Homo sapiens: one gene and its partners. The protein of the gene in region 5 purifies or fractionates together with the protein of the main gene of each other region. This does not show direct contact. Each region holds a gene or a part of one and is shown on either strand. Other genes may lie near its edges. The genes, in order: MOCS1, PDPR, FDXR, PC, BPNT1, ABHD18 and TOP3A.

What was found.
Region 1: the proteins of BPNT1 (region 5) and MOCS1 purify together in Homo sapiens (affinity purification with mass spectrometry; 2 studies listed by BioGRID and IntAct, with this or other methods). This does not show direct contact.
Region 2: the proteins of BPNT1 (region 5) and PDPR purify together in Homo sapiens (affinity purification with mass spectrometry; 2 studies listed by BioGRID and IntAct, with this or other methods). This does not show direct contact.
Region 3: the proteins of BPNT1 (region 5) and FDXR purify together in Homo sapiens (affinity purification with mass spectrometry; 2 studies listed by BioGRID and IntAct, with this or other methods). This does not show direct contact.
Region 4: the proteins of BPNT1 (region 5) and PC purify together in Homo sapiens (affinity purification with mass spectrometry; 2 studies listed by BioGRID and IntAct, with this or other methods). This does not show direct contact.
Region 6: the proteins of BPNT1 (region 5) and ABHD18 purify together in Homo sapiens (affinity purification with mass spectrometry; 2 studies listed by BioGRID and IntAct, with this or other methods). This does not show direct contact.
Region 7: the proteins of BPNT1 (region 5) and TOP3A purify together in Homo sapiens (affinity purification with mass spectrometry; 2 studies listed by BioGRID and IntAct, with this or other methods). This does not show direct contact.

The regions. Positions count from the first base shown.
Region 1 is NC_000006.12:39,913,963-39,917,462, reverse strand, and holds part of MOCS1 (molybdenum cofactor biosynthesis protein 1), read left to right. Parts: intron 1-1,230; coding exon 1,231-1,395; intron 1,396-3,500. UniProt on the Homo sapiens protein: Isoform MOCS1A and isoform MOCS1B probably form a complex that catalyzes the conversion of 5'-GTP to cyclic pyranopterin monophosphate (cPMP).
Region 2 is NC_000016.10:70,138,332-70,141,831, reverse strand, and holds part of PDPR (pyruvate dehydrogenase phosphatase regulatory subunit, mitochondrial isoform 1 precursor), read right to left. Parts: intron 2,934-3,500; coding exon 2,809-2,933; intron 1-2,808. UniProt on the Homo sapiens protein: Decreases the sensitivity of PDP1 to magnesium ions, and this inhibition is reversed by the polyamine spermine.
Region 3 is NC_000017.11:74,866,495-74,869,994, reverse strand, and holds part of FDXR (NADPH:adrenodoxin oxidoreductase, mitochondrial isoform 1 precursor), read left to right. Parts: intron 1-1,241; exon of another isoform or gene 1,242-1,429; coding exon of another isoform or gene 1,430-1,450; intron 1,451-2,989; coding exon of another isoform or gene 2,990-3,118; coding exon 3,119-3,211; intron 3,212-3,426; coding exon 3,427-3,500. UniProt on the Homo sapiens protein: Serves as the first electron transfer protein in all the mitochondrial P450 systems including cholesterol side chain cleavage in all steroidogenic tissues, steroid 11-beta hydroxylation in the adrenal cortex, 25-OH-vitamin D3-24 hydroxylation in the kidney, and sterol C-27 hydroxylation in the liver.
Region 4 is NC_000011.10:66,850,384-66,853,883, forward strand, and holds part of PC (pyruvate carboxylase, mitochondrial precursor), read right to left. Parts: intron 3,001-3,500; coding exon 2,856-3,000; intron 2,454-2,855; coding exon 2,364-2,453; intron 2,278-2,363; coding exon 2,056-2,277; intron 1,564-2,055; coding exon 1,407-1,563; intron 898-1,406; coding exon 657-897; intron 541-656; coding exon 291-540; intron 82-290; coding exon 1-81. UniProt on the Homo sapiens protein: Pyruvate carboxylase catalyzes a 2-step reaction, involving the ATP-dependent carboxylation of the covalently attached biotin in the first step and the transfer of the carboxyl group to pyruvate in the second.
Region 5 is NC_000001.11:220,069,289-220,072,788, forward strand, and holds part of BPNT1 (3'(2'),5'-bisphosphate nucleotidase 1), read right to left. Parts: intron 145-3,500; coding exon 96-144; intron 1-95. UniProt on the Homo sapiens protein: Phosphatase that converts 3'(2')-phosphoadenosine 5'-phosphate (PAP) to AMP and inositol 1,4-bisphosphate (Ins(1,4)P2) to inositol 4-phosphate. Is also able to hydrolyze adenosine 3'-phosphate 5'-phosphosulfate (PAPS) to adenosine 5'-phosphosulfate (APS).
Region 6 is NC_000004.12:128,031,406-128,034,905, reverse strand, and holds part of ABHD18 (protein ABHD18), read right to left. Parts: exon of another isoform or gene 3,130-3,500; intron 1-3,129.
Region 7 is NC_000017.11:18,287,495-18,290,994, forward strand, and holds part of TOP3A (DNA topoisomerase 3-alpha), read right to left. Parts: coding exon 3,348-3,500; intron 3,193-3,347; coding exon 3,063-3,192; coding exon of another isoform or gene 3,028-3,062; exon of another isoform or gene 3,006-3,027; intron 1-3,005. UniProt on the Homo sapiens protein: Releases the supercoiling and torsional tension of DNA introduced during the DNA replication and transcription by transiently cleaving and rejoining one strand of the DNA duplex.

The DNA of each region.
Region 1 (3,500 bases), on a different chromosome or scaffold from region 5:
GTTTGGCTGTGTCCCCACCCAAATCTCTTCTTGAATTGTAGTTCCCATAATCCCCACGTGTCATGGGAGGGACCCAGTAGGAGGTAATTTAATAATGGGGGTGGTTACCCTCATGCTGTTCTCATGATAGTGAGTTTTGACGAGATCTGATGATTTTTATAAGGGGCTTTTCCTGTTTTGCTCAACATTTCTTGCTGCTGCCATGTGAAGAAGGACGTGTTTGCTTCCTCTTCTGCCATGATTGTAAGTTTCCTGAGGCCTCCCTAACCATGCTGAACTGTGAGTCAATGAAACCTCTTTTCTTTATAAATTACCCAGTCTCAGGTATTTCTTTATTAGCAGCATGAGAAGGAACTAATACAGCCCCATGGCTGGCTTAAGTGTCTGCACTGGTGCTTTATCCTTGAGGCAAATGCTTCTGCTGCCTTCCCGTGCCGACAGGGAAGGATGAGGCCAACCTGTCCAGCTCCTTCAAATATAACTCCCCTCTTAGACAACCTCCCTGACATGTAGTAGGACCCCTCTGCTCCTGTACATGTGACTACTAAGCTGCGTGCACACTAGTCACTCCCTGTTTTTACAGAACCTTCTCCTGGGTGCACTTTGAGCTGTGGTCTCTATCCGTCTGGTCGGTTCCATCTGCTTTCTCTCTTTCAGTACTAATTTACCTTTCTGGGCTATCTACGGCATTCTTTCTTACCTTCCAATGCTATTATGGATTTTTAAAATCCTTCCATTATTTCTAGGGATATTTGGTAGAATGGAGCTGTCAAATAGCACTTAATTCAAACACTTTTGTTTCCATTATACAGAGTATCAAGACCTGTGTAGTACTTGGTTGTTAAGAGCAGAGTCCTGAGTCAAGTACACATGGATTTAAATGCCAGCTCTTCTTACTGTGTGAGATTAAGCAATTTTCATAATCTTTCAGAGCACCTCTTTCCTTACCTACTAAATGAGATAATTGTTATTGTGAGGCTTCAATGAGCTAATGTATGCAAAGCCCTCAGCAGAGCACCTAGCACAGAGCACTCAATGCTTAATCTTTTGGTTGTTTTTGTCAGTTTTGATTCTTAGCTTTCTTTTTAAGTTAGGCCTGGTTAATATAGGTCTGCAGAGAGCCTCTTTTCCATCCATCTTGTCTGGACAAAGAGTTTTGCCTTCCAGCCCTTTTCCCGGCCTCACCAAGAACAAGCAAGCAGTCTGACCCCCTTTCTGTTGTCCTTACAGCCCAGCTCCAGCGGCTGGAAGGGCTGAGAACCATAGGTGTTACCACCAATGGCATCAACCTGGCCCGGCTACTGCCCCAGCTTCAGAAGGCTGGTCTCAGTGCCATCAACATCAGCCTGGACACCCTGGTGCCTGCCAAGTTTGAGTTCATTGTCCGCAGGAAAGGTGAGCGGATGTGGATGGGGTGGGTGTCCCTCCCAGGGCCTGCACATAGCTGGGGAGGGCATGGCCATTGCTGAGCCAGGGGCCTGGTCACTTCCTCTTGGTGTCTGGGCTATCAGTAAGTCAAAGCACTTATTTCTCACCCCTCATCTTTGCCAAATGTATGTCAGGGACTTTGGGGGTCAGACGCTAATGACCTAGGGTGACCAACCTCCCCACCACCCCAGCCCCAGTTTGCCCAGGACTTGAGGGGGTTTTAGAATGAAGGACTTGAAGTTTTAAAACCAAGACAGTCTGTGGCAAACTGGGCCGAGTTGGTCATTCTACGATGAGCTCTGAAGAAACACGGGACAGCCCAGGGTGGAAGTAGCCACCCTGGGATGCCAGGGTCTGGGTGTATGCTGCCAGGAGGGGGTCCCCCAGCAGGCCCCCATGGTTATCCCTGTGCCCACCTGGGTATAAGCCCCTCCTATGCACCTCCTACTACAGGCACAGCCATACCCTCCACTCACCTGCCTCAGGAGGCCCAAGGTAGACAGGTGGAGCCAGCCTCGAGCTCTGGGTCACAGGAGACCAGTGCCTGGCTTCCCTTTGGCATGGACCTCATGTTGGGGCAAAGGCTCTTCAGGTTGGGATACCCTTTGATATTTGGGAGGGGGTACATGACTGAGGACTCTGGAGGATCAGAGGGGTGGCAGGGAGACCCAGATCTCCTTCCTCTTCCTTGGAAACAGCTTCAAGATCAGCCCCACCACCTTCTTTCCTTCCTTTTCTTAAACGGGGTGTGATGCCTTGCTTAATACCCTCCATGTGCTGAGGAAGCACTCATGGTGTCTCTTTCCTCTATGGAGGCCTGCTCCAGGTGCTGTGGAGGGGACAGAAGACACATAAGACATTGCCCTGTCCTTACAGGCTGCTAAGGGCCAAAAGATGTCATTCCATGGGACAGCCTTTGCTTGTCTTGTGGTACTGATTAAAGAGTTACAGAGAGGAAGAAAGAACTCTTAGCAGGAGAGAACTAGGAGGGCTTCAAGGAGGATGCATGCATGCTGGCCTTGAGGAACTGGAGGGTTTCAATCAATGGCACATACTCTGAGGGGGAGCAGGAGTACAGAACCTGCAAGGGCTCTACGGTGGGAAAGTGGGAGGTGGATCTGTGGGCTGTACTGCCCGCAAACACGTTCTCCCTTTTTGTCTCTTATTTCCTGGCACATGGATTGGAGACATCAGATCTTCCCTCCCATTCATACTCTTTTGTCCACCACCTGCCTTTGGAGGGGAGTGTTTTACAGAAAAGAAAACTTATAGTTCTAGGTTATCCTAGCAGCATTATTTTTTTCAAAGCTATACATTTTTCCCTTTACCCTCTCACTGAGCAGTCTGAAAATGCTGCAAGGAAACCATGGAGGCCATCTCTAGGCACCCTGTCTCACAGGTGACCACCCAGGCTGTGCAGGCTGGGGGTGCTGGAGGGGGCCAGGATGCAGTAGGTGATCAAGTGATTGGATGCATGAGAGAACTGGGCAGTGAGAAGTCAGCCTGGGGTCACATTGACTGTGGTTAATGATTGTTGAGACAATAATTGCTTACCAGCCCTGGAACAGCACCTGTGCGTAGTAGGTGCTCAGAGAGTATGTGTTGAGTGAATAATTGATGGACTGTTGAGGAAAAAACACTGAAACGGGAGTGGAAAACCTGCATTCTGAAAGATGGAGCCATGGGGCTTTGAGCAGAGCATTGCCTCACTCTGGGTCTTGGTTTCCTCCCGTAGACTACAAGAGGGTTCAACTAGATCCAGGGTCAGCATGCTATGGCCCACAGGCCACATCTAGCCCCCTGCCTGTTTTCATGTAGCCTTTGAGCCAAGAATGCATTTTACAGATAGCATTCAAAATCAGTTAATGATAGGGAACATTAACTATGAACCCCATTTAAGCAAAATATTGTCCCTGCAAAAAGAATCGCATTATTGTATCCCATTTGTAGATCTGTTTTACAAGACACTGTAGTCAGTTATTACTATTACATTTTGAATTTAGCCAACACTTTGTGACATGTACTTACACGGATCCTCAATTTTGCCTCTTGGCTTGCAAAGCCTACGATAT
Region 2 (3,500 bases), on a different chromosome or scaffold from region 5:
CACTCTGCCCGGCCCAATTTCCAGGCTAATGTAGTCTAATTTTCAAAATTACCCAGTGTATCAGGCATGCTCCAGAAGGAAAAGACAATCCTGCCAAGCTGCTATCGTCCCTCCCTGGAGCTACGTGTCACGGCATGACTCGGCCTGTATTCACATTCAGCATTCCACATTAGTAGGTAGAAATGATGGCAGAAAGGTCAGGGTCCTAAACCTTACCAAGCTTCATAGCAGAGAAGAAGGTTACTAAGTGGGACACAGGTGGTAACAAAATGTGAAAAAATGGCATTCGATTCTTCATTGTGCCTGTGTTAGGATCTCAGACCTGTTACAGACATTTCCTCCCTGATAATTAACTCACTTCTGAAGTGAAAGGGTACATATTGCAGCTTGATTAGGTGGCTCTGAAATCTGAGAAGTTATATTGTATTGTACCAATGACATTATTCACACAACAAAGCTAGGGTCAGAATTCATTTCTCTTAGGCCGGGTGTGGTGGCTCACGTCTGTAAACCCAGCACTGAGAGGTCGAGGTGGGCGGATCACGAGGTCAGGAGTTCAAGATCAGCCTGACCAATGTGGTGAAACCCTGTCTCTACTAAAAATACATAAATTAGCCAGGCATGGTGGCAGGCGCCTGTAATCCCAGCTACTCGGGAGGCTGAGGCAGGAGAATTGTTTGAACCCAGGAGGCAGAGGTTGCAGTGAGCCGAAATCACGCCACGGCACTCCAGCCTGGGCAATAGAGCAAGACTGTCTCGGAAAAAAAAAAAATTCATTTCCCTTAAGGTCTAATCTTCAACAGCAATAAGTAAAAAAAGCCAGAAGAGTGTGATCTGTGGTCCCTGATCTCACACCATCCCAAACAAAAGGCACATCAAGGCTTGGGGAGGTTGGGAGACAGGAGAAGGAAGCCAGGTGGGGTTCTCTGCATGGTGACAATCTCTCCATCTCCTAGTACTTTCGGTTCTATCATCCCCTCCCCCATTTTCTTTTCTATTTTTTTTTTATTTTTTGTTGAGATGGAATCCCTCTCTATCACCCAGGCTAGAGTGCAGTGGTGAGATCTTGGCTCACTGCAACCTCCATCTCCCGGGTTCAAGTGATTGTCCTGCCTCAGCCTGCCAAGTAGCTGGGATCACAGGCACGTACCACCACATCTGGCTAAATTTTTGTATTTTTAGTAGAGACAGGGTTTCGCCATGTTGGTCAGGCCAGACCTCCTGACCTCAAGTGATCCGCCTGCCTCAGCCTCCCAACATGCTGGGATTACAGGCTTGAGCCACTGCGCCTGGCGCCTTCCCCATTTTCTATGTGCCTGCCACTTCTATTTCATGAGAATTGGCTACCAAAAGTGTCATATCACCAAGCAGAAGCTCAAGCTCAATTATGATTTGTACAGGTTCCAAAGTAACTATGGGTAGGGAAATTTAGGCTTATAATAGTTCAACTTTAAAACAAAAAACTTTGATTTTGTATTTTATTTTTTTGAGACAGGGTCTCAGTCCCACTGCCCAGGCTGGAGTACACAGTGGCACCATCATGGCTCACTGCAGCCTCAACTTCCCCAGCTCAGGTGATTCGCCTACCTCAGCCTCCCAAGTAGCTGGGACTTCAGGTGTGTGCCACTAGGCATGGCTAATTTTTTGGTTTTGGTTTTAGTAGAGACAGGGTTTCGCTACGTTGCCTAGGCTGGTCTCAAACTCCTGACCTCAAGTGACCTACCTCCCTCAACGTCCCAAAGTGCTGGGATTACAGGCATGAGCCACCACACCCAGCCAAGTTCAACATTTTAACCAAAATATTTGCTAAAATTAAAGAACCTTAGCAGTTAAACATATTGCTGTTAGGTCCTTCATCTCCATGGATGTACATCCTCTTCCCAGGCCAAAAGTGAGCACTCAGGCATTAAAGGCCATCCAGAGTCCTCACCAACAATGTTGTTCAACTACCAAACTAACAGTTTACTTGCAACCAAGAATGGTGGTCAGAGCCAACACAGAAACTTAGTCCTGAGCATAAGTATGCCCAAAATATTTAGATACCATTTGGCAAAGTCTGAGAACAGCTCCTCAGTACAGGAAAATGAAATTACAACTTGAACCCACGTGGTTTGGTTCAATTCCTGATACAAAAGCTTTCTAAGGGCTTCCTAGAAAATAAATCAGAGATCAAGGTAGAATAACAAATTAAGATGAAGTGGCCAATCCTTCAAAGTTGAAGCAGGGCGAGAACACGGGAGTGAGAGCAGGAATGTATGTTTTGTATTTATATGGGAAGTGGCTCCCAATCTTGCTGCTGTAGGGTGGATTAATGGTGAAAGTCACTCACGGAAGCCTGAAGCTCTGAGAATAACTCGGCAAATTCTCTGACTTGGAAAGAAAAAACTAAGTGGGGAGTGAGAAAGCATTTTCTCAAAAACTAAGTGGGAGTGAGAAAGCATTCACTTCGACACAGGGTCTCTCAAGGCAGACTGCAGAAAGCACGCACTTCGACATACGGTCTCTCAAGGCAGACCGGGAAGAAGGCATTGCTTAGAATATTTATGAAGCTGCTATGTACCAACTGTAACTCCTATTCTATTTTCTTGTTCTCAGAATGAAACAAGGTCCGATGCACTAAAGAAAATGTTACGTATATATCATGAGGAGCATAAAGCCCCTTAACTCAGGCCTGAAACAGTCAAATCAAATGCCCAACTCAAAGCACTTGTTAAAGAACTGAGGAAAACTTTGCTCCTTCTGAATGACAACACGGGCCACCGAGAAGATACCTGCAACTAGGAGCAACTGCGATAAAGCTTCACTTACGCATGACTTCCATGACCCGGTGGCGCAGAAAGGTGCGGCTGCTCTGGAGGGCTCCAAAACGTTTCAGGTCCAATTCCCAAACGTTTTCTGAGGGATAACCATGTACCATCCATTCGGCAAGGTACCTATATAGACAGAGGGCACGTGTTGGGGCTCAGGTGTGAGATTTGAGAAAATTAATATTCTACAAATCGAGAACAAACAGAATCAAAAGATCCTAAATTGCCATAGACCAGCTGAATAGTTTTGGGCACTTTCCTTAACTTTTCTGGAAGAAACGAACATGGGTCTGTGTACTGCTCTCAAAAGACTACTATGAGGATTTTACCCCAGATGATAAGATTCCCTAGGAGGTATTTAACATAGAAGCCAGCCAGACACATTGGCTGATGCCTGTAATCCCAGAACTTTGGGAGGCTGAGGCAGGAGATTGCTTGAAGTCAGGAGTTTGAGACCAGCCTGGGCAACATAGTAAGACCCCGTCTCTACAGAAAAAAAAAAGTTTCAAAGTGAGCCAGGTGGCTCACACCTGTAATCCCAGCACTTTGGGAGGCCGAGGCAGACGGATCACTTGAGGTCAGGAGTTCGAAACAAGCCTGACCAATGTGGAGAAACCCTGTCTCTATTAAAAATACAAAATTAGCCAGTGTGGTGGCACACGCCTGTAATCCCAGCTACTACGGAGGCTGAGG
Region 3 (3,500 bases), on a different chromosome or scaffold from region 5:
CTCATGACAACCTGCAAAGCAGGTGTCGTGCCTCTTGCTTCACAGGTAAGGATGCTAGGGCCAAGTGAGGTTGTCCAAGCTTCCACCGTGGAGCAGGGATGGCACTGGGATCTGAGCGAAGGCAGCTCCATGTGAGGCCATCCATGTTAATCCATTCAGTAATCATTTACTGGACGTAACATGTTCTGGGCGCAGGCTTTACTGGGAACATGGGGGTGAACAGGACAGACGTGGTCCCTGTGCTCGAGGACCTGACATTCGAATGTGGAGGGGACAGGTGGATAATTTACAAGGTATTTTAGGGCTCTGACGGCTATAAGCACAGAGACTGGGGTGCGGGGAGGGGGTCCATGCCCAGTCTGGAGGGAGAGATGTCCCAATTGCAGTCTGAAGGACAGTAGATGTCAGGTTGGGGGACAATAGCAGGAGTGTCCCAGGCACAGAGAACTGCGTGAACAAAGAGGAAGAGAATGGCTCTCTGGGGAAAGGGCAAGTTCTGGAAGGTGCCTGTGTGCAGTAAGGCGTGAGGAGGTGAGAGCCGAGGCTGAGAGGTAGGTAGGACCCAGATCCTGGGGGGCTTGGAAGCCATTGACCAGGCTCTGGAGGCAGGTTTCGCTGGGAGGTGTCCACAGCTGCCTCCTCTTCCCTGATCAGAGTCTCCCGGGGCATCTTATCAAAATGCACATTCCTGGGCCTAACTTGGACCTAATCAAACTCTGTGGCTGGGCCCAAGAGTCAGCAATGTTAAACACCCCGAAGGATTCTTGTGCCCACAGCTGTAGATGGTTGGCTTCACTGGAGAGTTTTCGGGCTGCTGTTTTCCTTCAGGATGCCCCCTCTGCCTGCAGCGTAGGTCCAGGCAGGGCTGGTGGCCAGATAGCAGTGGGGAGCTGCTGGGGTTGTAGTGAGGAAGAGGACTGGGAGGATGGGGGATTGATGGGATCAGGTCGGGGGTCAGGGAGGAGCCCCAGGTTCCAGCTTGGGCTCTGAGTGGATGGGGTCGAGGGAACAGGAGCAGAAGTGGGGAGCGGTTTGGGGCAAGGGGACTTGGCTTGAAACTGGATGGATTTGAGATGTCTGGGGTGGGACATCCAAGGGTCTCAGGTTTGGAGCTTGGGGAGATGTCTGGGCAGGAGAGAGAGAGTAGAAAGTCATCAGCAAGTTCAGGGGAATTTGGGGTCGCAGGAGGGAGTGGGTTAAATCCTCAGGGAGGAGGGAGGGGGGCCAATCGGAAGAACCTCAGAGAATGTCCTTGTTAGCGGGGAGCAGCTAGAGGGACAGGAGGGAGGGAAGGAAGGAAGGAGGAAACCTGGAAGATGAGGTCAGCCACGAGAGATAAGGGGTAAGAACATCCGGCAGACTTAGCGTTCCGGAGGTGGCCCTGGAGAGGACATCGTGACCCAGAGTGAAGGATCTGTCGCAGGAAAGAATGGAAGATAAGGACAGAGAGGTTGGTTGGGTGAGGTGTTGACCTCTAGGCCGAGCAGTTTGAACTTTATGCTGTGGCACTGGGCCCCAGCGAAGATTTTTGAGCAAGGCAGTGACATACAACAACAGAATAGTAATGATAGCTCTCTTCTTGATTGAACACTCAGAGTAGGTTGCACCCCGGGCTGCCTGATTACTCATTTAACCTTGAGCAGGACACCACAGGGCTCTTCTTTTGGACAGAGAAGAAACTTTCCCCAGTGCACAGAGCCAGCTAGTGCTAGAGCTGGGACTGGCATCCAAGGCTACCTGTTTGACTCCAAGCCCAGAGCGCTTTGTGGGTACAACATCGTGGGGCTTGAGGGAGGTGGTTTGGGTAGCCCCCTGTGGCTGGCCTGGGATGGAGAGAGGCAGGAGGTGGGGGAGGGTGGACTTGGGTGCAGGCAGGGGAGTGGAGGGGAAGGGGGGATTTGGGCAAAGGCGAAGAGGTGGGTGGGAGCCTTTGTTGGGGGTAGGGAGACTGATGGGCAGGGGCTTCTTTGCCTTGAGTCCCAGTGAAGCTGGAGGTGTCATAGCGGGGACCTAAGATAGGATGGGGGGCTGGGCGTGTCAGCTGTGGGACCCCTGACTGCTTTACTGCTAACCGGCCTGTGGCCCAGAGTCTCACCATCCTGACCTCCTGGTGCTTTCCAGCAGCCATGAGAGAGAGCTGTCATCCATCCTAGTGTGCAGAGGGGGAGACTGAGACTTGGGGAGGCCCTGGGACTTGCTGGGATCATGTGGCTGGTTGGTGGCAGAGCCATACCAGACTTGCCTGCTGGACCCCCGACCCTGTGCCTTTCACACGGCCTCTCAAGGTGCCCTGGGAAGGCGGTCATGCAGAACCAGTGCCTGAGACTGTCTTTCTAAGAGTGGGAGCAGGCCCATTTCCACCTCTCTTTCCCGTGAATTCCCAGCCGTGCCCCCTCCCTGTCCTGCTGCTCCCCTTTCCCCAGAGCATGGTCCTGGGCACTAGAGCTAAGGCACCTGTGAATTCAGAGGGTGGCCCTCAGGTCCTCAGACTGGCTGGGACCTGAGGGTCCCAAGTGTCGAAGGGTTGGAGGCCAGGGCTGTGGGTTGTGCTTGACCTGAGAAGATAAAGAAGCCGCCCTGATATAATTCCAGTCGGGGGAAGCCACGGCCTTGTCAGCTGGCCACATTTCTCCCCATCTCTGAGGGCCGGCCGTCGTCGTCTTTTTTTTTTTTTTTTTTTTTTTTTTTGAGACAGAGTCTTGCTCTGTCACCCAGGCTGGAGTGCAATGGCGCGATCTTCGCTCACTGCAACCTCTGCCTCCTGGGTTCAAGCGGTTCTCCTGCCTCAGCCTCCCAAGTAGCTGGGATTGCAGGTGCCTACCACCACGCTCAGCTAATCTTTGTATTTTTAGTAGAGACAGGGTTTCACCATGTTGGTCAGGCTGGTCTCGAACTCCTGACCTCAGGTTATCCACCTGCCTCAGCCTCCCAAAGTGCTGGGCTGACAGGCGCGAGCCACCCAAGGAGTGAGTGCTCTTTTTCCTTGCAGAGGGTGGAAGCCTTGTGTTCTCAGCCCAGGGTCCTGAACTCTCCTGCTCTGTCTGGGGAAGGGGAGGACCTGGGGGCGTCCCAGCCTCTCTCTCTCGGCCCCACCAGCTGCCACCCTGTTCCCCAGCAGCACCCCCAGGCCCACGTGGACATCTACGAGAAACAGCCTGTGCCCTTTGGCCTGGTGCGCTTTGGTGTGGCGCCTGATCACCCCGAGGTGAAGGTGGGTGTCTCTGGGCCTGGAGGCTGGGGTTTGGAGACTTTGGTCAAGATGAGGAGGGCAGGGAGGCTCCCTGGCTGGATGACAGGACTTCATGCCGTCTGTGCCCATGCCACCCAGCTTCCCTCCTGGGGACACAGAGTGGTGAGGGTGGTGCAGACTTGGTCCCTGGAGCTGCCTTACCCTCTAACCCCTCCCATTCCCGGGGGACCTGGCAGAATGTCATCAACACATTTACCCAGACGGCCCATTCTGGCCGCTGTGCCTTCTGGGGCAACGTGGAGGTGGGCAG
Region 4 (3,500 bases), on a different chromosome or scaffold from region 5:
CCGTGCAGTCGAAGGCCGCGTACAGTCCCCGAGCCCCCTCCCAGTACTCACTGTAGTCAAACACGCGCTCCATGGGCACCTCTGCAGGGAGGCCAGAGTCAGAGGAGGCCTTAGAAATGTGTGACTCTTCCAGGACCCAGGGCTAGCTCAGGTCCCATGTCTGACTCAGGTGACAGAAGGCGGCAAGGCCAGAGCAGGGCATCTGGATCCTAGGCAGGTCCAACACTACTGGGACTGGTGGTGGCTGCGGCTTTGAGAGGGGTGTGGCCACGGGCTGCTGTTCTTCCTACCTGTGTCCAGGGGAGTCCCTCTGGTACAGGCCACCAGGGCCCCCATGCTGGGCTGTGAAGTCATCCCAGACATGGAATCAGCTGCCACATCCACCACATCAGCTCCAGCCTGGGCACAGGCCAGCATGGCTGCCACGCCTGCCCCTGACGTGTCGTGGGTGTGGATGTGCAGTGGGAGGTCGGGGAAGCGGTCCCGGAGGGAGCTGACCAGCATGGTGCAGGCCGTGGGCTTCAGCAGCCCGGCCATGTCCTGGGGGAAGTGGGAGAGAGAGAGAGAGAGATGGTAGAGAGGGCAGGATGTGTGCCTGTGGGTGGCGGGGACATGGCCGGGGCAGAGAGGGAGGGACGGACAAGTGGCCCAGGCACCTTGATGCACAGGATGTGGGTGCCAGCTCGCACCAGCTCTTCGGCCAAGCCCATGTAGTACTGCAGTGAGTACTTGGTGCGGCTGGGGTCGGCCACGTCGCCCGTGTATGAGATGGCAGCCTCCACCACGCCTCCGGCACTTCCTGCCGCCTCCATGCCCAGCAGCATGTTGGGCAAGTAGTTGAGGGAGTCAAACACACGGAAGACATCCATGCCATTCTCTTTGGCCACTTCACAGAACCTGCAAGGGTGAGAGAGCCCAGGGCTGAGCCCCACCCCACCTCCCTCTGAACAGTCTTCCCTGGCTCCTTCCTGACCCACTCTATGGCCCCTGGGGAATGAGATCTGAGGGTCTCGCCTGGCAGGGGGTGTGGCATCCACAGGCGGGGGGTGGCCACACAAGTGTGGACCAGGCCCTGGAGGATCAGCTAGGCCAGTGGCAGGCTGTGGAAGAGGGTACTGAGCAAGGAGTCTTGAGGCCTGGGTTCCAATCCCAGCCCTGCACCGAGTGACCCAGGCAAGTCTCAGACCTTCCACTGCCCCAGGAGTGAGGGAGTGATTTAGAAGCCTGTCTGGTTCTGCAACTCCAATTTTACACTTCTCGATATTTCCAAACAGCAGCCCCTGCTGCGTGTGGCCACAGAGAGACTTGGTGTCAGGCTGACCGTGGAGAACAGAGGCCATCACGACATGGCTCGGTACCCTCTGGGCCACACCAGGTAGCGTCTGCCCACCCCACCCCAGGCTCACTTGAAGACCACGTTGTCTGGGTAGTTGGTGTAGCCCACAGCATTGGCCCCCCGCAGCAGCATCTGGAAAGGGATGTTGGGGATGAGCTCCCGGAGCTCCTGCAGCCGCCGCCAGGGGCACTCATACAGGAAGCGCATGGCGACGTCAAACGTGGCTCCTGCACAGGAACCGAGAGGCCCAGATCAGCTCTGCATGCCTGGGGAACTCCACCAGGCCTTGGAGCTAGCTCTGCAGCACAAGCCTCTGGCCCCAATACCAGGTCCTGCTCATCTTCGCCATACCTGTGTTCCCTGCTCCAACCCCCACAGATTTTTCCCTTGTCTGATCTCTAAGGGGGAGACCAGGCTCATTTGTGTCCCTTCTATGCCCCCTTTATAATCCCATCTTCTCCTCTACCTCTCTGTGCTATAATTAACAGGCAGGTGTCTCCTCCTGACCCTGGACCTCCCAGGATGCACCTGGTCTCAGCTCTGCAACCTCGTGCCGGCACCAGGCCTGGCCGGAGAGGGCGCTGTGCCTTCTTCGGTCCTTCCTCTTTGGTGTTCTTCGTGTCAGCGTCTCTAGCTTGTCCCCAGTGGCCTAAGCCTGTGGGACTGGCCACAGAGCGGGCGCCCATTCCTACCAGGCGCTGCGCAGCATGCCAGCCTACCTCCCCAGTTCTCCATGCTGAAGAGCTTGCTGAAGTTGTGGGCAACATAGGGGGCGATCTTTTTGAGATCGTGGGTGCGCACACGAGTGGCCAGCAGTGACTGGTGGGCGTCCCTGAAGGTCGTGTCCATCAGCAGCAGCCCCGGGTGGTTCCGCACAGCTCGAGCAAAGCCCTCAGGCCCCTCTCGCAGCAGGATGTCTCTGAAACCAGCCGGGGGCGGGCCTAGGGTAGACAGGGGCATTGGTGCCCATCCTGCAGGTGGCAACCTCCTGTCTCCCCCATGAGTTGACAGAATGGATCTCACCTACCTATGGGCACTGCAGGGACAACGGGGTCCGTGGGGCTGGGGCTGGCCTTGACGGGAATCGGGGTGGTTGGACCGTTTACCATGACATGGCCTGGGGAGAAAGCGGGCAGTGGGTCAGGGTGGGCTGGGCAGAGGCTGAGTCGAGGGCAGCAGTGAGAGTGGCTGGGCTCAGGGACAGGGACACATCCCTCCAGGATCCCCGGGCTTCCAGCTGGCCCCTGTCCTCTCCAAAGCCAGGGCCTCCTGGGTACAGGCAGTGGGGACGTCTTGAGGACCACGTGGATGGAAAGGTGGGGTCTCTCAGATCAGAAGCAAGGAGAGCAGTGAATGGCAGGGTGCAGGACAAGAGGACGCAGGGCCAGAATGAGGGCAGGGGTGAGGGGCAGGGGGCACTAAGGAGTTCTTTGGTCATGGGGAGTGGCAAGGAGGTAGGAGCAAGAGATTGGAGAGCGGAGGGGAGGGGAGGGCAGGGCAGGGCAGTCTCGGGCCAGACCGAGGTAGTGCAACAGCTTTTGGGCCCGGTTCTGTGCAGGCCGCAGCTGGAACAGCTCTGGGTTCTCGTCGATGAACTGGGTGTCCACAGTGCCTGCCAGGAACTGCTGGTTGTTGAGCACATTCTGCAGGAAGGCGATGTTGGTCTGCAGGACAGAGGCGGGTGGGAGGGGGTCACCATGCAGCACAGACAGGGAAGGCAGAGGAGAAAAGGCTGAAAGAGAAAAGGCTGAAGATGCTGCCCTGGGCCAGCACAGCTTCTGGGCCTCCCTGCAGAGGGGCACTTCCCCGTCCCTCAGCCCTCTCCTCACTCCAGCAGAGCCCCCTAAGCTGTCACGGGCTGGGCCTGCTCCCTCCATACTTGTTTACACCAAAGCATGTGCTGAAGGCCACCCTTCCTGCCTCCCCGCAGCCTAGAACAGGGCTCAGCCTTTTTCTCCAGCAGCGTGGCCCACAGCAGTCACCCTTGCCCCTCGTCCACGCTTCTCGAAAGAGGGCCTTGACCGCAACAGACCACACTCTGGCACTCTAAGTCACTCCTCCCAGCTGAGTCCAGCGGGCATGCTCCCGCCTTGCTGCTCGTTCCCTGGGCTTCCAAGCCATCTTGCTCTCCTGTCCTCTTCCTCCCCAGCTCCTCACACACCAC
Region 5 (3,500 bases):
GCTTTCCATACAACATACAAAATATCAAATATTTACAACTAACATCATATCCTTGTCCCACTACTGTCAAATATGAATACAAAAGAGATATCAACCTTCGGTATATTCCTTGGTTCCATCCAGAGGATCAACCCAGACCACGAGCTAAAATTAAAAAGAGAGAAGGAAAATATCTAAATCAAGCACACAAAATTCTAAAAATAGATTTAAATAGATTAAAATTACTCTTTTTTTCCTGTTTGAAATTGTATTATGGATGGCTTAAATTAATGTCATCTGTTTTGAGATAGTACAAAAAGCTTATTCTTTTGTAATCATGGAAAAAGTCCATTTGAATAAGAAAAAAGTCTGATTTAAGAATTTTCAGGCCAAGCACGGTGGCTCACACCTGTAATCCCGCACTTTGAGAGGCCGAGGCGGGTGGATCACCTGAAGTCAGGAGTTCGAGACCAGCCCGGCCAAAGTGGTGAAACCCCATCTCTACTAAAAATACAAAAATTAGCCGGGCGTGGTGGTGGGTGGCTGTAATCCCAGCTACTCAGTAGGCTGAGGCAGGAGAATCACTTGAACTCAGGAGGCGGAGGTAGCAGTGAGCAGAGATCGTGCCATTGCACTCCAGCCTGGATGACAAGAGCAAAACTCCATCTCAAAAAAAAAAAATACAAAAAAATGATTTTCAACATGAAATGCTTAACTGATAAAAGTTTGTTGTCATTTGAACACTAAGCACAATGAATATACTGATCTCTAGATCATGGTACAGGAAAAACTTGTAAAGTGGCAAAAAAATGTTTTGAACAAGCACAGTTGCTACTCATTTTTATATATAAGTGCTGATTTTAAAAAAACAAGTCTGATTATCTTAAGGACACAGTCCATACAATCCAAAGAAAAATGAATAATAAAACTGGCAGCAGATTTAAAAGGAAAATTCCTTCTGTTTAGGACATTTAATATGATTCAGGATATGCTGCCTTTAACCACTACAATGATAACATTATGTGAATTTCTGAGTGAGGGCATGTTTCTGATGGAGAACACCATGTCTCACTTTCTTTTCTTTTTTGCTTTTTTTGAGACAGAGTCTCACTCTGTCACCCAGGCTGGAGTGCAGTGGCGCGATCTCGGCTCACTGCAACCTCTGCCTCCCGGGTTCATGCCATTCTCCTGCCTCAGCCTCCCAAGTAGCTGGGACTACAGGCGCCTGCCACCACACCCAGCTAATTTTTTGTATTTTTAGTAGAGATAGGGTTTCACCGTGTTAGCGGATTCAGGCGATTCTCCTGCCTCAGCCTCCCAAGTAGCTAGGACTACAGGCGCGCACCACCATGCCCAGCTAATTTTTTTGTATTTTTAGTAGAGATGGGGTTTCACCATGTTGGCCAGAATGGTCTTGATCTCTTGACCTCGTGATCCGCCTACCTCAGCCTCCCAAAGTGCTGGGATTACAGGCTTGAGCCACCTTACCTGGCCCCAGCACCATCTCTTAAAGAGATTATTTTTTCCCCAGTTGAATGGCCCTGGCACACTTGTGAAAAATCAGCAGGCCATAGATGTATAGGTTTCACGCTGGTCATGGTGGCTCACGCCTATAATCCCAGCACTTTGGGAGGCTGAGGCGGGCAGATCACCTGAGGTCGAGAGTTCAAGACCAGCCTGACCAACATGGAGAATCCCCGTCTCTTCTAAAAATACAAAATTAGCTGGGCGTGGTGGCACATGCCTGTAATCCCAGTTACTCAGGAGGCTGAGGCAGGAGAATTGCTTGAACCTGGGAGGCGGAGGTTGGTCTCGATCTCCTGACCTCGTGATCCGCCTGCCTCGGCCTCCTAAAGTGCTGAGATTACAGGCGTGAGCCACCATGCCCAGCCCCACCATGTCTCATTTTCTTTGTTTCCTCCATACCACAGAGCAAAGTGTCTTATTCATAGTAAGTCTCCAATGAATATGCCTTAAATAATTAAAAATTGGAAAACTAAAGACATTATGGTGGCTATCTGAAGTCACAGGTTTAACTTAAGCAACTATAAAAAGCAAGCAGGATGACATTTATGTTCTTCTAAAAATATAAGGTAGCAACCTGTTTCATAGCCTTCTATCCCCAATTACCAATGAATGTTTTACTAGCAAATCTACTACATATCTACTAAATAACAAATTAGATTTTCTTCCTAAAAGTATTTATTTATTTATTTAATGAGACAGGGTCTCACTCTGCTGTCCAGGCTGTAAGGTACATGTAAAACTGCACAAGGTAGGAACAAAGTAGGACAACTTACACTTCCCAATTGCAAAACTTAATGCAAAGCAAGAAAGTGTGGTACTGGCATAAGGATAGACATATAGACCAATAGAATATAACTGAGAGTCCATAATGAAACCCATACATCTATTTCTTTTCTTTTTTCTTCTTTTTGAGACTAAGTTTTGCTCTTGTCACCCAGACTGGAGTGCAATGGCGCAATCTCGGCTCACTGTAACCTCCGCCTCCCAGGTTCAAGCAATTCTCCTGCCTCAGCCTCCTGAGTAACTGGGATTACAGGCATGTGCCACCACGCCCAGCTAATTTTGTATTTTTAGAAGAGACGGGGATTCTCCATGTTGGTCAGGCTGGTCTTGAACTCTCGACCTCAGGTGATCTGCCCGCCTCAGCCTCCCAAAGTGCTGGGATTATAGGCGTGAGCCACCATGGCCAGCGTGAAACCTATACATCTATGGCCTGCTGATTTTTCACAAGTGTGCCAGGGCCATTCAACTGGGGAAAAAATAATCTCTTTAAGAGATGGTGCTGGGGCCAGGTAAGGTGGCTCAAGCCTGTAATCCCAGCACTTTGGGAGGCTGAGGTAGGCGGATCACGAGGTCAAGAGATCAAGACCATTCTGGCCAACATGGTGAAACCCCATCTCTACTAAAAATACAAAAAAATTAGCTGGGCATGGTGGTGCGCGCCTGTAGTCCTAGCTACTTGGGAGGCTGAGGCAGGAGAATCGCCTGAACCCAGGAGGTGGAGGTTGTGGTGAGCCAAGATCGCGGCCCTGTACTCCAGCCTGGTGACAGAGCGAGACTCCGTCTCAGAAAAAAAAAAAAGAGATGGTGCTGGTTGCAGCCTCAACCTCCATGGGCTCAGGTGATCCTCCCATCTCAACCTCCCAAGTAGCTGAGACTATAAGTGTGCACCACCATACCTGGCTAATTTTTGTATTTTTTGTTGAGACAGAGTTTCACCATGTTGCCGAGTCTGGTCTCGAACTCCTAGACTCAAGCAATCCAACCACCTCGGCCTCCCAGAGTGCTGGGATTACAGGTGTGAGCCACCATGCCTGTCCCTAAAAGTATTTTAAATAACGGTTTTAGAGTGCAAAGGAAACCCATAGGATGAGAAACTGAACTCTAAATCCATATGGTTGCCTGATACTTCCATGTTGGCTCTGAAAGATATCAAGTTTCTGGTTGCCCCTATTTTATAACTACCAATTTTTCATCTTACATGCAAATATTAT
Region 6 (3,500 bases), on a different chromosome or scaffold from region 5:
CCGAGGCAGGCGGATCACCTGAAGTCGGGAGTTTGAGACCAGCCTGATCAACATGGAGAAACCCCGTCTCTACTAAAATTACAAAAAATTAGCCGGGTGTGGTGGCACATGCCTATAATCCCAGCTACTCGGGAGGCTGAGGCAGGAGAATTGCTTGAACCTGGGAGGCAGAGGTTGTGTGAGCTGAGATCACACCATTGCACTCCAACCTGGGCAACAAGAGCGAAACTCTGTTTCAAAAAAAAAAGAAAGAAAAAGAAAAGGAATAGACAAATTTTATCTTCCATAAGATATTTTTTCTTTTCTTTTTTCTTTTTTTTTAGAGACAAGATCTCACTATGTTGCCTAGGCTTGAGTGCAGTGGTTACTCTCAGGTGCAATCATAGCACGCTGCAGCCTCAAACTCTTGGCCTCAAGCTATCTTCCCACCTCAGCCTGTTGAGTATCTGGAACTACAGTCCTGCGACACCCTGCCCCACTCATATTTTTTTCTAAAGCTGTTTTTTTCCTATTGTATAATACATTTTTATAGCAGAATATTCAGAAAATCCAAAACATAGGAAGGGGAAAACATCATAATCCCATCACTCACATCTACTGTTAACCTTTTCATATCTTTCCTCCAGGCTTTTAAGAAAATGCATGTCTAGGCCAGGCGCGGTGGCTTACGCCTGTAATCCCAGCACTTTGGAAGGCCAAGGAGGGCGGATCACAAGGTCAGGAGTTCGAGACCAGCCTGGCCAACATGGTGAAACCCCATCTCTACTAAGAATACAAACATTAGCCGGGTGTGGTGGTGGGTGCCTGTAATCCCAGCTACTCGAGAGGCTGAGGCAGGAGAATTGCTTGAACCTGGGAGGCGGAGGATGCAGTGAGCCAAGATCGCGCCACTGCACTCCAGCCTAGGTGACAAGCAAGACTCCAGCTCAAAAAAAAAAAAAAAAAAGAAAAAAGAAAATGCATGTCTATATTTTCACCCAGTTTAAATAACTATCAGATATTAATTTTGTATCCCACTTGTTCAACTAACCATATCCTCACATCCAAACACAGCTATTAAGACTGTCTTTAGCCGGGTGCGGTGGCTCACGCCTGTAATCCCAGAACTTTGGGAGGCCGAGACAGGCGGATCACGAGGTCAGGAGATCGAGACCATCCTGGCTAACATGGTGAAACCCCGTCTCTACTAAAAATAGAAAAAAATTAGCCGGGCGTGGTGGCGGGCGCCTGTAGTCCCAGCTACTGCAGAGGCTGAGGCATGAGAATGCCGTGAACCCAGGAGGTGGAGGTTGCAGTGAGCCAAGATCATGCCACCGCACTCCAGCCTGAGTGACAGAGGGAGACTCTGTCTCAAAAAAGACAAAAAAAAAAAAAAAAAAAAGACTATCTTTGAAACTGATAGCCTGCTAATAGATTATTATTTCCAATATGTTGGGAAGTCATAGTTTTACAACATGCTTGTCTTTCTTTGGCTCAAGTACTTGTTCCCTGTGAATTATAATGAACCATAAGAAGGGAAAAAAATTAGAGGTGGATATTTGCATGTTGGTGTAAACACATAAAGAGATTTTGTTTTGAAGACAGATATGACAGCAATAGGGAAGAAGTAAAGAGGGCTTTGAAATTATTGCCCACTGGATAATTTTTTTTTTGAGACAGAGTCTCACTCTGTCACCCAGGCTGGAGTGCAGTGGTGCGATCTCGGCTCACTGCAAGCTCTGACCTCTGGGTTCACACCATTCTCCTGCCTCAGCCTCTGCAGTAGCTGGGACTACAGGCACCCGCCACCACGCCCAGCTAATTTTTTTCTATTTTTAGTAGAGACAGGGTTTCACCATGTTAGCCAGGATGGTCTTGATCTCCTGGCCTCGTGATCCACCCGCCTCGGCCTCCCAAAGTGCTGGGATTACAGGCGTGAGCCACCACGCCCGGCCCACCCACTGGATAATTTTTTTCCTCAGAGTTAGTTCCAGGCACTTGCTCTTGTGGAATGAATCTGAATTTGTTTACTTCCTGGTGCCAAAAGTTACAATACGGGCTTGTGTACATGTAATGTATGTCCCTTTTTAATCATGTGAATAGTCTCTTATTCACCTGTATTATCAATAAGCTCTAAATAACACAAAATATTAGAGCACATAAAGGAATGGCTTTATTTATTCATTCATTCATTTTTTGAGACAGAGTCTCACTGTCACCCAGGCTGGAATGTAGTGGTGCGATCTCAGCTCACTGCAACCTCTGCCTCCAGGGGGAATGCAGTGGTGCGATAGCTCACTGCAACCTCCACCTCCCAGGTTCAAGCGGTTCTCCTGCCTCAGCCTCCTGAGTAGCTGGGACTATAGGTGCGTGCCCACCACGCCCAGCTAATTTTTGTATTTTTAGTAGAGACGGGGTTTTACCATATTGGCCAGGCTGGGCTCGAACTCCTGATGTCATGATCCACCCGCCTTGGCCTCCTGAAGTGCTGGGATTACAGATGTGAGCCACCGCACCTGGCGGCTTCTTTTATTTTTATGTTTGGTGTGTGAAAAGACTGAATTTTTAAAAATTCTACTATTCCAATGTCATCTAACCTCTGTTAAGTTTTGAAGTGACTGATGGGGAATGGAAGAGGTCAAATAGCTTAGTAGTGACTCCACTTGAGCAAGTTACTTAATCTTTTTTGTTCCCTTTATTCTGTGTAAAGGGGATAATAACAGAGCAATTGCCCTAGCATCTGGCACATGATAATAGTTAACATTTATCTCTCTCAAATGAAGCCTTCATAATAGCACTTTTGTGTTTTTATATTTGACTTTGATTATAAATCTACTCTTCCTAATACGTCTTAGCTATACTCCCACTTAGATACACAAAAGAGTGAAAGAAATTTGATACTAATTTACTAATGCAAGCATGTGGGTCCTCTGCGTTCACATGTATAACAGAACTTTAGACTCTTCTTAAGCAATCCTAGCAACCCTAGGTAGTCACGGATTTTTGTTTATTTGTTTTAATTTTGTTGTGCCAGAGGGCCAATGAGTATTGGATAGTCTGCTCACTCACCAATAGGGACTCAAATGCTGCATGAATACTTCTTAAAAGATCATACTATAAAAAGAAAGGTTTACTATATCCTTCAAGACATGAGAGACTTGAACAATTGGTTTATTTCTAAAAAGGGTGACATTTATAAGTTGGGCTAGATAAGTAACAACATAGAAAAATTATTTCCTCCGTTAACAAGAGCTAAAACATGTCAAACATATCACATACAATTCTTCTATTATATAGCTATCCAGTTGGAAGTTTTTTTTAACACTTATGTACAGGGCACTGATCTAACCATTTATGTGAATCAATTTACTTAATCATTAATAATAACATGAGGAATATGTTTCAATAATGCAGAATACCAGAAAATTATAGTTTTAGCATAAAAAAATTTTTTTTTTTGAGACGGAGTCTCGCTCTGTCTCCCAGGCTGAAGTGCAGTGGCGTGATCTCGGCTCACTGCA
Region 7 (3,500 bases), on a different chromosome or scaffold from region 5:
CAGCCTGGGTGACAGAGTAAGACTCTGTCTCAAACAAAACAAAACAAACAAACAAAAAACCCAACAAAAAAATTAGCTGGGTATGGCAACACATGCCTGTAGTCCCAGCTACTTGGGAAGCTGAGGTGGAAGGATCCCTTGAAACCCAGGGTTCATGGCTGTGACCTAGCCTGGGTGACAGAGTAAGATGCTATCTCTCCAAAACAAATTTTTTTAGGGGCCGGGCATGGTGGCTAACACCTGTAATCCTAACACTTTGGGAGGCCTAGGTGGGCGGATCATGAGGTCAGGAGTTTGAGACCAGCCAACCTGGCCAACATGGTGAAACCCTGTCTCTACTAAAAATAACAAAAATTAGCTGGGTGTGGTGGTGCGTGCCTGTAAGCCTAGCTACTCGGGAGGCTGAGACAGGAGAATCGCTTGAACCTGGGTGGCGGAAGTTGCAGTGAGCAGAGATTGTGCCACTCCACTCCAGCCTGCAGCAACAAGAGCAAAACTCCATCTCAAACAAACAACAAAAAAAACAAAAAAACTGACTGTGGTGATAGCTGCACAACTTTGTGAATATGCTAAAAAATGTACATTATACATTTGAAGGAGATAAACTGTATGGTATATAAATAAAGCTGTTAATAATTATATATATATATATATAAATTTTTTTTTTTTTTTTTTTTAGATGGAGTCTCTCTCTGTCACCAAGGCTGAAGTGCAGTGGCACAATCTTGGCTCACTGCAACCTCCACCTCCCGGGTTCAAGCAATTCTCCTGCCTCAGCCTCCTAAGTAGCTGGGATTACAGGCGTCAGCCATAACACCTAGCAATTTTTTGTATTTTTAGTAGAGATGGAGTTTCACCATGTTGTCCAGGCTGGTCTTGAACTCCTGACCCCCTACCTTGGTCTCCCAAAGTGCTGGGATTATAGGTGTGAGACACAATGCCCAGCCTGTTAATAATCTTTTAAAAATATTATTATTATTTTTTTGTAAGTGTACCTCTATGTGGTTCCTTTACTTAGAAATCCTGGAAGACTCCCTGCTGACCATGTACCACCATCTAAGCCCTTCAACTGGGCAAGCCAAGGCCCTGCAAAGTCAGGCTTGGATCATCTTTCCAGGCTCACCTTCTATGGCCACCCCCCTCCAATCCAGCTACAGCAGGCTTCTGCTTTCCTGCTCCTGTGCCCTTCCTCAGGCCTACCCTGCACTGGGCTGCCCTTCGCTGATCCAGAAGTCTTACTATGAGGTTTTGGTCCAGCTCAAATGCCAGTCCACCCATCACATTTTCTTCCCTGCCTACTCCCTGCAGAACTATTACATTGTATTCAATGTGTTGGTTTGGTTCTTCTGTTAGATTGAGAACTTAAAAAATGAGGTCTTATTCCTCCTTGTGTCCCTGGTGCTTAGTCCAAGCTCTCACTCTTGTGGGCCTCACACTTTGTACCTCAGTCTCTGCCTTCCGGGCTCAAGTGATCCTCCCACCTCAGCCTCCCTACCTATAGGCATGCACCTAATTTTTTGTAGAAATGTTTTTTTTGAGATGGAGTCTCACTCTGTCACCCAGGCTGGAGTGCAGTGCTGCGATCCTGGCTCACTGCATCCTCCACCTCCCGGGTTCATGCAATTCTCCTGCCTCAGCCTCCCAAGTAGCTGGGATTACAGGCATGTGCCACCACGCCTAGCTAATTTTTGTATTTTTTTAGTAGTGATGGGGTTTTGCCATGTTGGCCAGGCTGGTCTCGAACTCCTGACCTTAGGTGATCCACCCGCCTTGGCCTCCCAAAGTACTAAGATTACAGGCATGAGTCACCGTGCCCAGCCAGATCTGTTTTGTTGTTGTTGTTGTTGTTTGTTTGTTTGTTTTAAGACAGAGTTTTGCTGTTGTTGCCCAGGCTGGAGTACAATGGCACAATCTCAGCTACAGGTGCCCACCGCCATGCCTGGCTAATTTTTGTATTTTTAGTAGAGACAGAGTTTCACCATGTTGGTCAGGTTGGTGGTCTTAAACTCCCTACCTCAGGTGATCCACCCAGCTCAGCCTCCTGAAGTGTTGGGATTACAGGCGTGAGCCACTGCGCCCAGCAAGATGGGGTTTTACCGTGTTGCCCAAGCTGGTCTTGAATTCCTGGGCTCAAGTGATTCACCCATCTTGGCCTCCCAAAATGCTGGGATTACAGGTGTGAGCCACCACACCCAGCCTTCATACATTTTTATCAAATAAATCATGACGGGTGAACCTCTACTAATTTTACCTAAACCTGCAGGGTTTCTGGATGTCCTAGTGATGGTCAAGGACTTCACGTTGAAGCACTGCTTCCCAAGTCATAGGCCTAAGAAACTCCCTTTGTGGATGACGCAGCTGCTTATGTAACACATGCCCAGGGAGCTCTGCTTCCCCTCCACTGTGCTGCAGGTATTCCTGGACTAGGTTTGCCAGAGAAAGCCCTTGAGAGCCTTGACAAAAACGAATGGAGGGGACAGCAGATTAGTTACAAGGCCCTACCTGCAAAGCTTGAGCCATGGGACTTATCAGCAGGGTCCTGGCACATACATGAGGCCAGCGTGAGCAGCCTGAGTGAGCAGTGTGGGTTCAGACCTGCAGAGACAGCTGCCACCCTCACCCAATGCTCCACATGGGAAGGAGGCTCAGGGCTCTATCTGACACTTCAAAATGAAGATAGATTTTATGATAACTGTCCCAAGTTTTAATTGTTGGTTCCTTACATGCTGTTCTTATTCGAAAGAACAACAAATCCTCATGTGGCCAATGGGTGCTCCCAGTTGGGCCCTCAAAGCCATGGGAAAAGTCTCTGTTACTATGTGGACAGCACAGTGCATGGTTTAAGAGCACTGACTGTGGAGTTATTCAGACCAGGTTTTAATAATACACACTTTGTGAACTTAGGTAAGTTCTTAACCTCTCTGAGCCTTATTTCAACTATAAAATGGGATAAAGATATAGCAGCTGCATTAGAGAATGGTTTGAAGACTAGAGGAAACCTGTACCTGGTACACTGTAAGCCTTAGCTCAAGAGATGCGAGTTACCCAGAGGAGCCACTGACCAATGCCATGCTTCTCCATGAGGGCAATGAGGTCGGCCTCGGTGAGCAGCTTGGGTGGGCTGGTCTCCCCGTCCACCATCTCCACGGTGCTGGGCTGAAAGTGGGATCCTTGCTCATAGACAGGGAGGATCTACAGGGAGCGGCAGGTGCAACAGTCAGATGATTCCATCAGCACACTCAGGCAAAAAATAACCTCATTTCAAGGAACATGATCCTGCTCCACTAGAGAACTCAGGGCTCACAACACAACTGTCCTCCCTCTCACTGGGGACCACTCTTTATTACCTTGTCACTCCAGTGATCATATGGATACACATCCAGATAGTTTCGGGCCAGAATCATGAGGCCATGGGCCACAAAGCGTTCCTGAGCGATGTCGATCTCCACTGTGGTCTCCTGCCCCTGAGCATCCTGGGAGCAGCAAGCCAGGAAATGGCG